Regions from separate parts of the Homo sapiens genome. Here region 2 is linked to region 1. Evidence: fine-mapped expression QTL. A gene starts in region 1. The other region holds a variant in brackets. All regions are shown on one strand. Distances are from middle to middle. Region 1 holds the start of CITED4 (Cbp/p300 interacting transactivator with Glu/Asp rich carboxy-terminal domain 4). Region 2 has its middle 57 kb from the start of CTPS1.

Evidence for each region. PIP is the estimated chance that this variant, and not a neighbour inherited with it, causes the effect.
Region 2: its variant is fine-mapped to the expression of CITED4 in whole blood (INTERVAL, PIP above 0.99).

What each region holds. Positions count from the first base shown.
Region 1 is chr1:40,859,765-40,865,133 of GRCh38, reverse strand. CITED4 (Cbp/p300 interacting transactivator with Glu/Asp rich carboxy-terminal domain 4) reads left to right here and starts at 2,771. Exons shown (of 1, transcript NM_133467.3): 1 at 2,771-4,080. The coding sequence starts at 3,007. The coding sequence ends at 3,561. It overlaps LOC124904157 (a long non-coding RNA gene), which reads right to left and starts at 2,750. Exons shown (of 3, transcript XR_007066025.1): 1 at 2,024-2,750; 2 at 739-966. RefSeq lists an enhancer at 2,385-2,444 and silencers at 2,545-2,744, 2,905-2,984.
Region 2 is chr1:40,920,488-40,925,856 of GRCh38, reverse strand. No RefSeq gene overlaps it. Among named protein-coding and RNA genes, the nearest start is that of CTPS1, 57 kb to the left of the region's middle. The variant A/G (reference allele first, on the strand shown) is at 2,309.

The DNA of each region.
Region 1 (5,369 bases):
TTAAATGGAAAATCATCTGGTGGTGCAATGGCTCCCAAATGCTGGTGACCTAAGACCAATGATGGCAGAATAATTTTTTGTTTGTTTTGTTTGTTTTTTTTTGTTTTTTGAGAGAGGGTCTCCCTACATCACCCGGGCTGGAGTGCAGTGGTGTGATCATAGCTCACTGTAGCCTCAACTTCCCAGGTTCAAGTGATCCTCCCACCTCAACCTCCCAAGTAGCAAGGACTACAAGTGCACACCACCATGCCAAGTTAATTTTTTATTTTTTCAGAAACAGGGGTCTCAAACTCCTGAGCTCAAGGGATCTACTTACCTCGGCCTCCCAAAGTGCTGGGATTACAAGCGTGAGCCACTCACCTGGCCTGCTTGTTGATTTTTTTGAGACAAGATCTCTGTCGCCCAGGCTGGAGTGCAGTGGTGCCATCATGGCTCACTGCAGCCTCCACCTCCAGGGCTCAGCTAATCCTCCCACCTGAGCCTCCTGGGTAGCTCAGACTACAGATACATGCCACTATGCCCAACTAATTATTTAACTTTTTGTAGAGACACGGTCTCACTATGTTTCCCAGGCTGGTCTTGAGCTCCTGGGCTCAAGCAATCCTCTCACTTTCATCTCCCAAATTGGGCAGATTTTCCGTCTTTATCAAAGCCCCCACTCACCCACCCCTTACCCCCCACATCTCCAGATAAGTGTGAGGCATGGCCAGGTTTAAGAATTTCTGTGAGAAGCCTTACCTGTAGAGAAAGATTCAGGAGAATAAATTCCAGGGTGTAGCTTTTTACACTTTGCAAAAATGTGACCACACCCATGGTCATTTATCACTACCCACAAGCTCTCAGGCTGACCAGGCAAGATCACCGTCTCCCTTTCACAGAGCAGAAAGCTGAGGCCCTGGGGAATCAAGTAATACTCCCCGCTCAACACTCAACAGTCACAGCTGGTTGGTGGTGGAGGTCACACACCTGTGGGTGGCAGAGATATGATTAGAACTTGGGCCTCTGGCTGGGCGCAGTGGCTCATGCCTGTAATCCTAGCACTTTGGAAGCCTGAGGTGAGAGGGTCACTTGAGGCCAGGGATTCGAGATAAGCCTGAGGCCCTCCTCACTCCCCCACGCCGCCCCTCCCCCCCGCTCCCTTCTCTATTTAAAAAAATAAGAAGAAAGAGGGAAGAAAAGACCTTGGGCCCCTGAATTCTCACTCTAGGGCTCTCCCCTCTACATCAACTGGATAAACCCAAGTTCCAGGAAGTCCCAAGGATGCCACAGGTCGGGGGAAGGTCAGAGAAGGGAGAGAGAGTGTCAAATGCGTGGAGGGTAAGGTTCTGGGAGGCTGTCTCCTGGCCACAGGAAAGACTCCAGTTGCCCTAAGGACTTGGAAAACACATGGCATTCACACGCTAACTCTGGCTGCCTGTGACCTCAGGACAGCCACTTTCTCTTTGTGTGCTTCTCCTTATCACTGAAATGGGGCTGATAATCCATGCCCTGCCCCCAACAAAATACTTGTAGAATGTAAAGCACTTTAAAAGTCCAAGTTATTATTGCTGTTATCAAGAGAAGGCCCTTTGGGACAGAACTTAAATAGCCTTGGCCGGGCGCGGTGGCTCACGCCTGTAATTCCAGCACTTTGGGAGGCCGAGGCGGGCGGATCACGAGGTCAGCAGATCGAGACCATCCTGGCTAACACGGTGAAACCCCGTCTCTACTAAAAATACAAAAAAAATTAGCCGGGCGTGGTAGCGGGCGCCTGTAGTCCCAGCTACTCGGGAGACTGAGGCAGGAGAATGGCGTGAACCCGGGAGGCGGAGCTTGCAGTGAGCCAAGACAGCGCCACTGCAGTCCAGCCTGGGCGAAAGAGCGAGACTCCGTCTCAAAAAAAAAAAAAAAAAGAACTTAAATAGCCTTTCTTTCATCTAAGGGACACTTTTGAGCATCTACCACATACCAGGCACTGTGCTAGGCACTGTGCACACATGCCCTCACTTACCCCTCACAAAGGGTCAGTGCTGCTGTTCTTTACCTTTTACAGATGAAGAAACTGAGGCTCAGCTGAGAGTTGCAATTCATTCCATCATTAGTTCATTCACTCAGCTTTTACTAAAAGCCTGCTCTGGGCCAGGCTCTGGGCCAAGTGCTGAGAAGAAGAAGATGAACAAGTCCTTCAGGAGACGTGCCCATAAATTAATAACAACTAAGTACATGCTTCAACAGACAAGGTGCAGTGGGAACTAGAGGGGGAGCAACAGGCTCTCCTGGGGGTTATGGGAATGGACAGCTGACCTCCTGCGGGGACCCTGCACCGCTAAGGTGCATGCGCCCTGTGTAGCTGTGCAGTCTCACTTTGATCAAGGCTTTGCTGTGTATTTCCAGGAAGCCTCTTCCGCCACTGAGCCTCGGTCTCTACCTGGAAAGTTAAAAGGTTGCGTAGGCCTGACATCCTGCAGCTCTTGGGGGGCCTAAAACTCTGGCCCTCCCACCCCACCTTCTGGTCAGTTCAAGCTCTACCCCAGCCAAGTCCGATTCCGAAGCCCTGAGGGCCAGACCGAATCCCTCCGAAAGTGCCAAATACCCCGCCCCAGGGCGGTGCTCAGAGCCTGGGGCGTGGCCGGAGTCCCAAGGGGCGGGGTTCCAGTGGGAGGGGCGGGGCCAAGACCTAGATGCAGGCGTGCGCGGCCCGCCCAGAAGCGTCTCGCCCAGCCAATGAGCGTCCGAGGGCGGGGAAGCCCCGCCTCTGGGTATAAGAATACGCCGAGCCCAGCTACGCGACGCGGAGGTTTCGGAGCACTACAGGTTGCGGGCCTTTGTGACCCCAGGCTGCGGCCGCAAGGTGCGCAGTAGTGGGCTGGGCCGGGGCACCAGTCGGGTTTGGTTTTGCTCCGCCCGGCCGAGCTGCAGGGACCGCACGGTGCCCGGGTCTCCCGCCGCAGAGCAGCCGCTGGCCCGGGCCGGGGGAGCCGGCGCTGACCACCGCGCGCTGTCCCCGCAGGCAGCCGGCCTGCCGCCATGGCCGACCACCTGATGCTCGCCGAGGGCTACCGCCTGGTGCAGAGGCCGCCGTCCGCCGCGGCCGCCCATGGCCCTCATGCGCTCCGGACTCTGCCGCCGTACGCGGGCCCGGGCCTGGACAGTGGGCTGAGGCCGCGGGGGGCTCCGCTGGGGCCGCCGCCGCCCCGCCAACCCGGGGCCCTGGCGTACGGGGCCTTCGGGCCGCCGTCCTCCTTCCAGCCCTTTCCGGCCGTGCCTCCGCCGGCCGCGGGCATCGCGCACCTGCAGCCTGTGGCGACGCCGTACCCCGGCCGCGCGGCCGCGCCCCCCAACGCTCCGGGAGGCCCCCCGGGCCCGCAGCCGGCGCCAAGCGCCGCAGCCCCGCCGCCGCCCGCGCACGCCCTGGGCGGCATGGACGCCGAACTCATCGACGAGGAGGCGCTGACGTCGCTGGAGCTGGAGCTCGGGCTGCACCGCGTGCGCGAGCTGCCCGAGCTCTTCCTGGGCCAGAGCGAGTTCGACTGCTTCTCGGACTTGGGGTCCGCGCCGCCCGCCGGCTCCGTGAGCTGCTGAGGGCGGCCGGCGCCCGCCCGGCGTGCCGGAGAGGAGAAAGGGCCCGACTGCCCGCCGGACCCTGCACCCAGCGACTGGGCCCCGCGCGCGCCCTCCGCGAGGGTGGAGGCGGCGGCTGTGTGCGCAGGGCCCGGCACCGGACTGGGACCCTGGCGTCCCTCCAGGCCTTGCCTCCTGCGGGAGGACAGTTTGGCTTCACTTCTCTGACCCCAGCCTCGGCCGTAAAGTGAAAGAGACCGGACCAGCTTCAGCTTTCGGACTCTGGTTCTTGGATCGTGTCCTCTCCCCCTCGCCGCCCTCTTCCCCCAATCTGAGCCATTGCAGGCCTCTGCCTGCTGCCCCCTCTCTCCTCGGGATCGGGTCCCCAGAGCCACCATCTCCTGAGCCTCCCACCCCGCTGCCTGGGCCCTGTGGTTGCTGGGCCTCCCACCTCAAGGAGGGGAAGGTTGTACAGCCCGAACCCGTGGAGCAATGCCCTGTCTGGCCTCCAAAACCAAAATAAAACTGGGTCACTTTACAGTCTTGCCGTTTTCATTTCCTTATCACCCCGAGCCCTGACTATATTTAGCTTCCAAAGTCCCAAGGTTGCTGAAGACACTGGATGGCATGGGGGCCACAGTCCCCAGCAGTGCCCAGGAGAGGAAACCGACAGTTTCTTTCAAAAATATCTCGTGGGTTGTGCAATTGTTATGTCACAACCTGGAGGGCAGAGGCTGCCACTGGGTGGTGGGGTAACCCACTGGGCTTCCCAGCTCCTAGGGTAGGGTGGGGGGAGCTTGGTGCTCTGCCAGAGAGGAGCTGGGTGGCACCGAGTTCAGACAGCCTAGCTTTGGACCCTGACTCTCTCCTTTGCCCAAGACACCATCCGTTCTGATTTTTGAGGCGGTTTCCCAGAGGGAGATGGTCCCCGTCTCCTCAGGTAGTTACGCTGCCTTTAGCACAGTGCCAAATACCTGGGCAGTTCTCAGTAAGTGACGGCAATTATTATTCTACAAATTGGTGCTGATTTTATTCCAGGCCCTGTGTCAACCTGGTGCATGTTCTCATGGAATCACAGCCCAGGTGGGAGGAGGTGGGTGATAGGCCTGAAAACAAACTAATCTTGCTGCAAGGAAGACTGTGATGAGTTCTAGAAAACAGTGCTAAGCAGCACTTTGGGAGGCCGAGACGGGCAGATCACGAGGTCAACAGATCGAGACCATCCTGGCTAATATGGTGAAACCCCGTCTCTACTAAAAATATAAAAATTAGCTGGGCATGGTGGTGCGCGCCTATAGTCCCAGCTACTCGGGAGGCTGAGGCAGGAGAATCGCTTGAACCCAGGAGGCAGAAGTTGCAGTGAGCCGAGATCATGCCACTGCACTCCAGCCTGGCAACAGAGCGAGACTCCTCAAGAAAAAAGAAAATAGTTCTGGGGGGGATTGTACAGCCAGGACAATAGACCGGCCAAGCGGGCACACCCAGAGAAGGGAGCAGTTTCAGCTATTAATAGTTGAGGTTGGGGTCAGTTCAGGCTTCAGGGAAGCGGTGACATTTGACGTGATGAACAGAGCCTTGAGTGATGAATATGTTTTTAGGAGAGGAGCCTGTTTCAAGGCAGGAAGGCACACAAGTACGATGAATGTTTGGGGAAGGTGTGGGGTGTCTAGAAGGTACAAGAAAGGTCGAATGGCTTTACGACAACTTCGTGAGGCAAGCACAGTCCTCATTCTACACATGAGGGTTGTGGAGTGTGCCCAGGCCTGGCAGGATTTGGCCTCAGAGTCCTGAGCACCAGCGTGAGTTCCTGGCCACCCTCTGCAGTTCAC
Region 2 (5,369 bases), 61 kb before region 1:
CCCCAGCTAATTAAAAAAATTTTTTTTCCTGTTGCCCAGGCTTGAACTCCTGGGCTCAAGTGATCCTCCTGCCTCAACTTCCCAAAGCTCTGAGATTACAGGTATGAGCCACTGCACCCAGCCAATTTCTTGACAGTGTATGTCACTTTCACTGGGCACTGGGTTCTTCCAGGATTGTGGCTTTGACTTACTTAATCTGTTATGCTGCAGGGGTGCCCCTGTTGCTGTTCTCCCTTCTTCTGCAGTAATTGGGACCTGTTTTTAGCAAGGCTAATGGCCTCCCAAAGTCCTGACGTGTCTTAGTCTAGCTTGCAGCTAGGGGTGTCCAAGCAACAAGGTTCTGGCCAATGCATAAGGAGGGAGGTGGTGTGAGCAACTTCAGTGAGACCTTTCCTGGAAGAAGCATGCCCTCCGCTTCTCCTCCTTACCCTGCTGGCTGGAACATAGACATGGTGGTGTACCCCATAGGACCATGTGGAAAAAGGTAACTCCCTAGAAATGCCAGAGCCCCCCCAGAGAGCGAGCCATGGTCCCTGACACCCTGAAGCTGCCACATCGGCTTTGAACTGCTTCCCCGCTGAATGTTCTGAGAGGCACTAAAACCTCTTTTCTCGTTAAGTCTTCCTGCAGCCTAATATAATCCATACTAATAGCCATGCCTAACATGCTGACCGACCTTAGTACGTGCTTAATAAATGATGGTTGAGTTATTAAATCAATGACAAAGAGAGAAATACTCAATGCCAGCATTTATCACATTGACACTGCATATTCTTTCTAGCTCCTCTCTACATACAGTCGATATTTTAACAGAGGTATAATTAGAGCAGAAATAGAATTTTATATCCAGCATTTCCCCAGTAATAGTAATTACGTAATAAACATTTTCCATGTCAAGTCCTTGTATCATCATTCTAAATGAATGTGTCATTTTCTTTTCTTTCTTTTTTTTTTTTTTTGAGATGGAGTCTCACTCTATTGCCTAGGCTGGAATGCAGTGGCGCGACCTCAGTTCACTGCAACCTCCACCTCCTGGGTTCAAGCGATTCTCCTGCCTCAGCCTCCTGAGTAGCTGGGATTACAGGCATGCACCACCACACCCGGCTAAGTTTTGCATTTTTAGTAGAGATGGGGTTTCGCCATGTTGGCCAAGCTGGTCTTGAACTCCTGACCTCATGTGATCCGCCCGCCTCAGCCTCCCAAAGTGCTGGGATTACAGGTGTGAGCCACTGATCAACCATAATTTACGTAACCACCCCGTTATTCTTCGGTATATACATTTTCCCCATTTTTCCTAATTATAGAGAATGCTACAAGAAAGTTACTTATGACTTTATGACTATTCTTTTGCCTTTTCCTTTTGACAAGTCCTTTGAGAATGGGATTGTTGCCTTTTCTAATATTTTAGAACTCTTTCTACCTTCACCGGCCACTCCTGTTTCATAATTGCCAATTAAATTGTGAACAATGGTCATGACGGGAATAACAATTACAGTAACAACAGCTGCTGGTTACTGATCACTGACTATGTAACCATATCATGCTAGGCACTTTTCATCTTTTTGTTTCACATATCCGCATATAGCTATACATACTTTCTCTCTCTCTCTCTCTCTCACACACACACACACAAGCATGGGAAGTGGTAGTTAAAAGTGCGAATTCCAAGGTCAGACTAAATTCAAATCTTAGTAAAACAGCTTCTTCACTATGAGACCCTGCATAAATTACTTAACCTCTCTGTGCCTCCATTTCCTCATCTATAAAATGAAGATAGTAATACTTTCTTTATAGGGTAGCTATGAGGACTAAATGAGATAACACAATAATAGCTGGCATTTCTTGAACACCTACTAGGTGCCAAGCACTATGCTAAATAAAGGCTTTATGTTAATTCACTTATTTCTTGCCAGATTATAGGAGCTAAGTATTTTCAGCCTCATTTTGCAGACAAGGCACCTGAAGCTCAGAAGGTAAAGACATACCTGCCCAACCTGCAGGGAGCTGAGCAATTCTCACCTGGGTCACACTGACCTCACAGTCCCAGGCTCCTCCCAAAAGGATTCTTCTCTTTAAGCAGTCTCAAACGCTCAATTTCTCCAGCATAATCTCTCCTTCCGCCCCCATTCCCATCCCACAAGGTGCAGCCTTCTTTCAGGTGTCCCCTCCCCGCCATCACTATTGCAGCATAGAATGCCACAGAAGCTCAGTTAGGAACAATCCCCATTTATCAAGTGCTTCCTCTGGGCCAGACCCTGTGCTTGGTGCTTTATATCATTATCTCATTTAATCCTCAGACAGTCCTGGA[A/G]CATAAGCACCATTACCCCCATGTTACAAGTGAGGAAACCCAGGCCCAGAATGCTGGAGCAAACTGCCCAGCGTTGCAGGGTCATTGCATTCAGGAGCTGAGACTCCCAGTCAGGCTGAGAAATGCAAGTCTAGCATCTTGCCACCCTCACCCACAGCTGCCTGGGATGGTGGTTCCCAGGGGATGGGGAAGATCGTGTTGTGATGGTTCCAGATGGCCTGATGGTTCCCCCTGCCTGAGGGCAGCCATGCAGAGAGTGCCAGCACAGCGTCCACTAGAATCTCCCTGCCTCTCAAGGCCCAAGGCCCTAGGCCCAAGGCAGGGCCGAGATCCAAGGGAGAGCGGTCGGACGGGCTTTCTGTGCCGCCCCTGAAATAGCCAGCTCAGCTCCCCAGCTCCAGCTCTGCAACTGCAGGCGGATCCCGGAATAGCTCTTTCCTCCTGCAAGGTGACCTAGTTAGCAGGTTCCTCTTGTCATGTGAGGTTGGCTGAGCAAGACATTTACCTACCTCTGTCTACCCAGAAAAGCCTGATCCGACACTTTCCTCTCCTCCTTCCCCCGATGCTGTTCCTGATTCTCCCACGGTTCACTCATTCTAGAAGTCCAGGGAATGGATGATAATGCACTAAGCGTGGTGCTTCAGGGCCTCAAAGCATGTTCACAGACATTATCATACTTCCTTCTTACACCAGGCTTGGAGGGCGAATCTATTATCAACCCATTTCACAGCTGAGGAAATAAAGGTGCAGAGAGGGTAGGCAACATGAGCAAGGACACACGGCTGGGAGGAGGCAAAGCCAGGATCTGGACCCAGGTTCCTGAAACTCAGACCAGTGTCCCTGCAGTGCTTTGAGTTTCCCTGGTTTTATGCACCTCTCTGAGGAGCCCCAGTCACTAAGCCTTCCTCACCTATCCACTGCCTGTGTTGGACCTCCTGAACACCTATCTGGTTGTAGAACTGGGTGCAGAGGTTGAGATCAAGGACTTGGAGGTCCACCAGCCTCAGGGTGGAGCTGGGATTTGAGTTTCAGCATTTATCAGCTCTGTGGCCTCAGGCAAGTTGCTTTGCCTGCCTGAGACTCAGTTTCTATATCTGTAAAATGGGCATAATAATCATACCTGCATCCTAGGGTTTCTATAAGGATTAAATAAGATAGGGTACATAAAGTGCCCAGCAGCTTCCTTTCATTTTGCATATTTTTGATAAAATAGCTATTGTTGTCCAGGCACAGCGGTACATGCAAGTAATCCCAGCACTCTGGGAGGCCCAAGCAGGCAGAGGGTTTGAGCCCAGGAGTTTGAGATCAGCCTGGGCAACATGGCGAAACCCCATCTCAGCAAAAAATACAAAAATTAGCTGGGTGTGGTGGTGCACACCTGTAGTGCCAGCTACTCGGGAGGCTAAGTTGGGAGGATCACTTGAGCCTGGGAGATTGAGGCTGCAGTGAGCAGAGATCACTTCACAGCAATCCAGCCTGGGTGACAGAGTGAGTTCTGTCTCAAAACAAACAAACAAACAACAACAACAAAAAAACTATTGTTGTTATTATTATTGACATCCTGAATTTAACCCAAAAAGGAGAAGCTTAAGATGGGCTAGTGCCAATGAAGAGTTGCTGTAGTAAAGGTTGTTATGACTATTCCCATGCCATCATGCACAGGCCTGGAAGAAAGAGTCATATTGACAATAACACAACTCCAGCATATGGCAGTTTCTTCTGAAGTGTTGGCCCCTTGTTCCACTGGATGGCTGCTGGCTCCCTGTAGGAACCCACTGCAGGAGAGGAGAGAGGTGTGGGCAGCCTTGGCTGTCACCCTAGGGGTGCTTATTCACTCTGCAAGTGTCACATCCCACTGGCAGGGGGCATAGAGAAGTGCAGGGTGCCTACTCCGGTGATCCCTGGGTGCTGTGGGTCGTGCAGAAGTGAAGATGCGGAAGGAGATTAGGGGCAGGTCTGGGGACCCCTGAAGACCATGATCAAATTATGTAAAGGCAGAAGTGGCTGAGGGCTAGTGAGAACGAAGCTGGACTTGGGGGATCAGATGCTGCATTCAAATCCTTCCTCCACCACTCCTTATATGTGAGCCCACAGATAAGTTGCTTAACTGCTCCAAGCCTCAGTTTACCCATCTGTAAAAACTGGGCATAATTTGAACCTCATGGGAAGGTGGCGAGGCTTGGATGAGTTACCTACGTGTTGCACCAGCACAGTGATAGGCATGACATGGGGGCAGAGTACATGTTTGAGAATTTGAATTTGAAGTCTAGCCAAGCCCCAAGACCCAAGGTACCATCTTAGGAATTTGGAAGAAGAGATGAATGTGGTCTGGAGTAAACAAAGAAGGCTCCAGAATGATAGCATGACTGGCCTTGGGTCCTGAAATCTAAGTATAACAAGGATGCTGGAGAAGCTTGGGGAGGCCATTCAGACAAGAGGTCCAGTGGGAGGAATGGGCATGGCACACAGACAGGACAGTCGCTTTCCGTCACACCCCATGGAAGGTTTTTTTTTTTTTTTTTTTTTTTAGAAAGAGTCTCATTCTGTCACCCAGGCTGGAGTGCAGTGGCACAATCTTGGCTCACTGCAGCCTCAACCTCCCAAGCTCAAGGGATTCTCTCACCTCAGCTTCCCAAATAGGTGGGACTACAAGCATGCGCCACCACGCCTGGCTAATTTATACATATAAATACACATTATGTATATACATGTGTGTATATATGTGTGTATATATGTGTGTGTGTGTGTGTGTATACATATACACGCACAAAACTGTAGAGACCAGGTTTCACCATGTTGCCCAGGCTGGCCTCAAACTCCTGGGCTCAAGCAATCCACCCACCTCAGCCTCCCAAAGTGTTGGACCATGCCTGTCTCTCAGAAAATTCAAACTCTTCACCATGGCCTTTCCTCTGTGACCTCTATTCCCAGCCCTTCTGGTCACCGCACTCACTCTACCTCAGTGGCCTGGTCACTGTGCTCACTCTACCTCAATGGCCTCCTCGCGGTTCCCACACACATCCTCTTCATCACGCCCTATTCTTTTGACTTGTGTACAGAG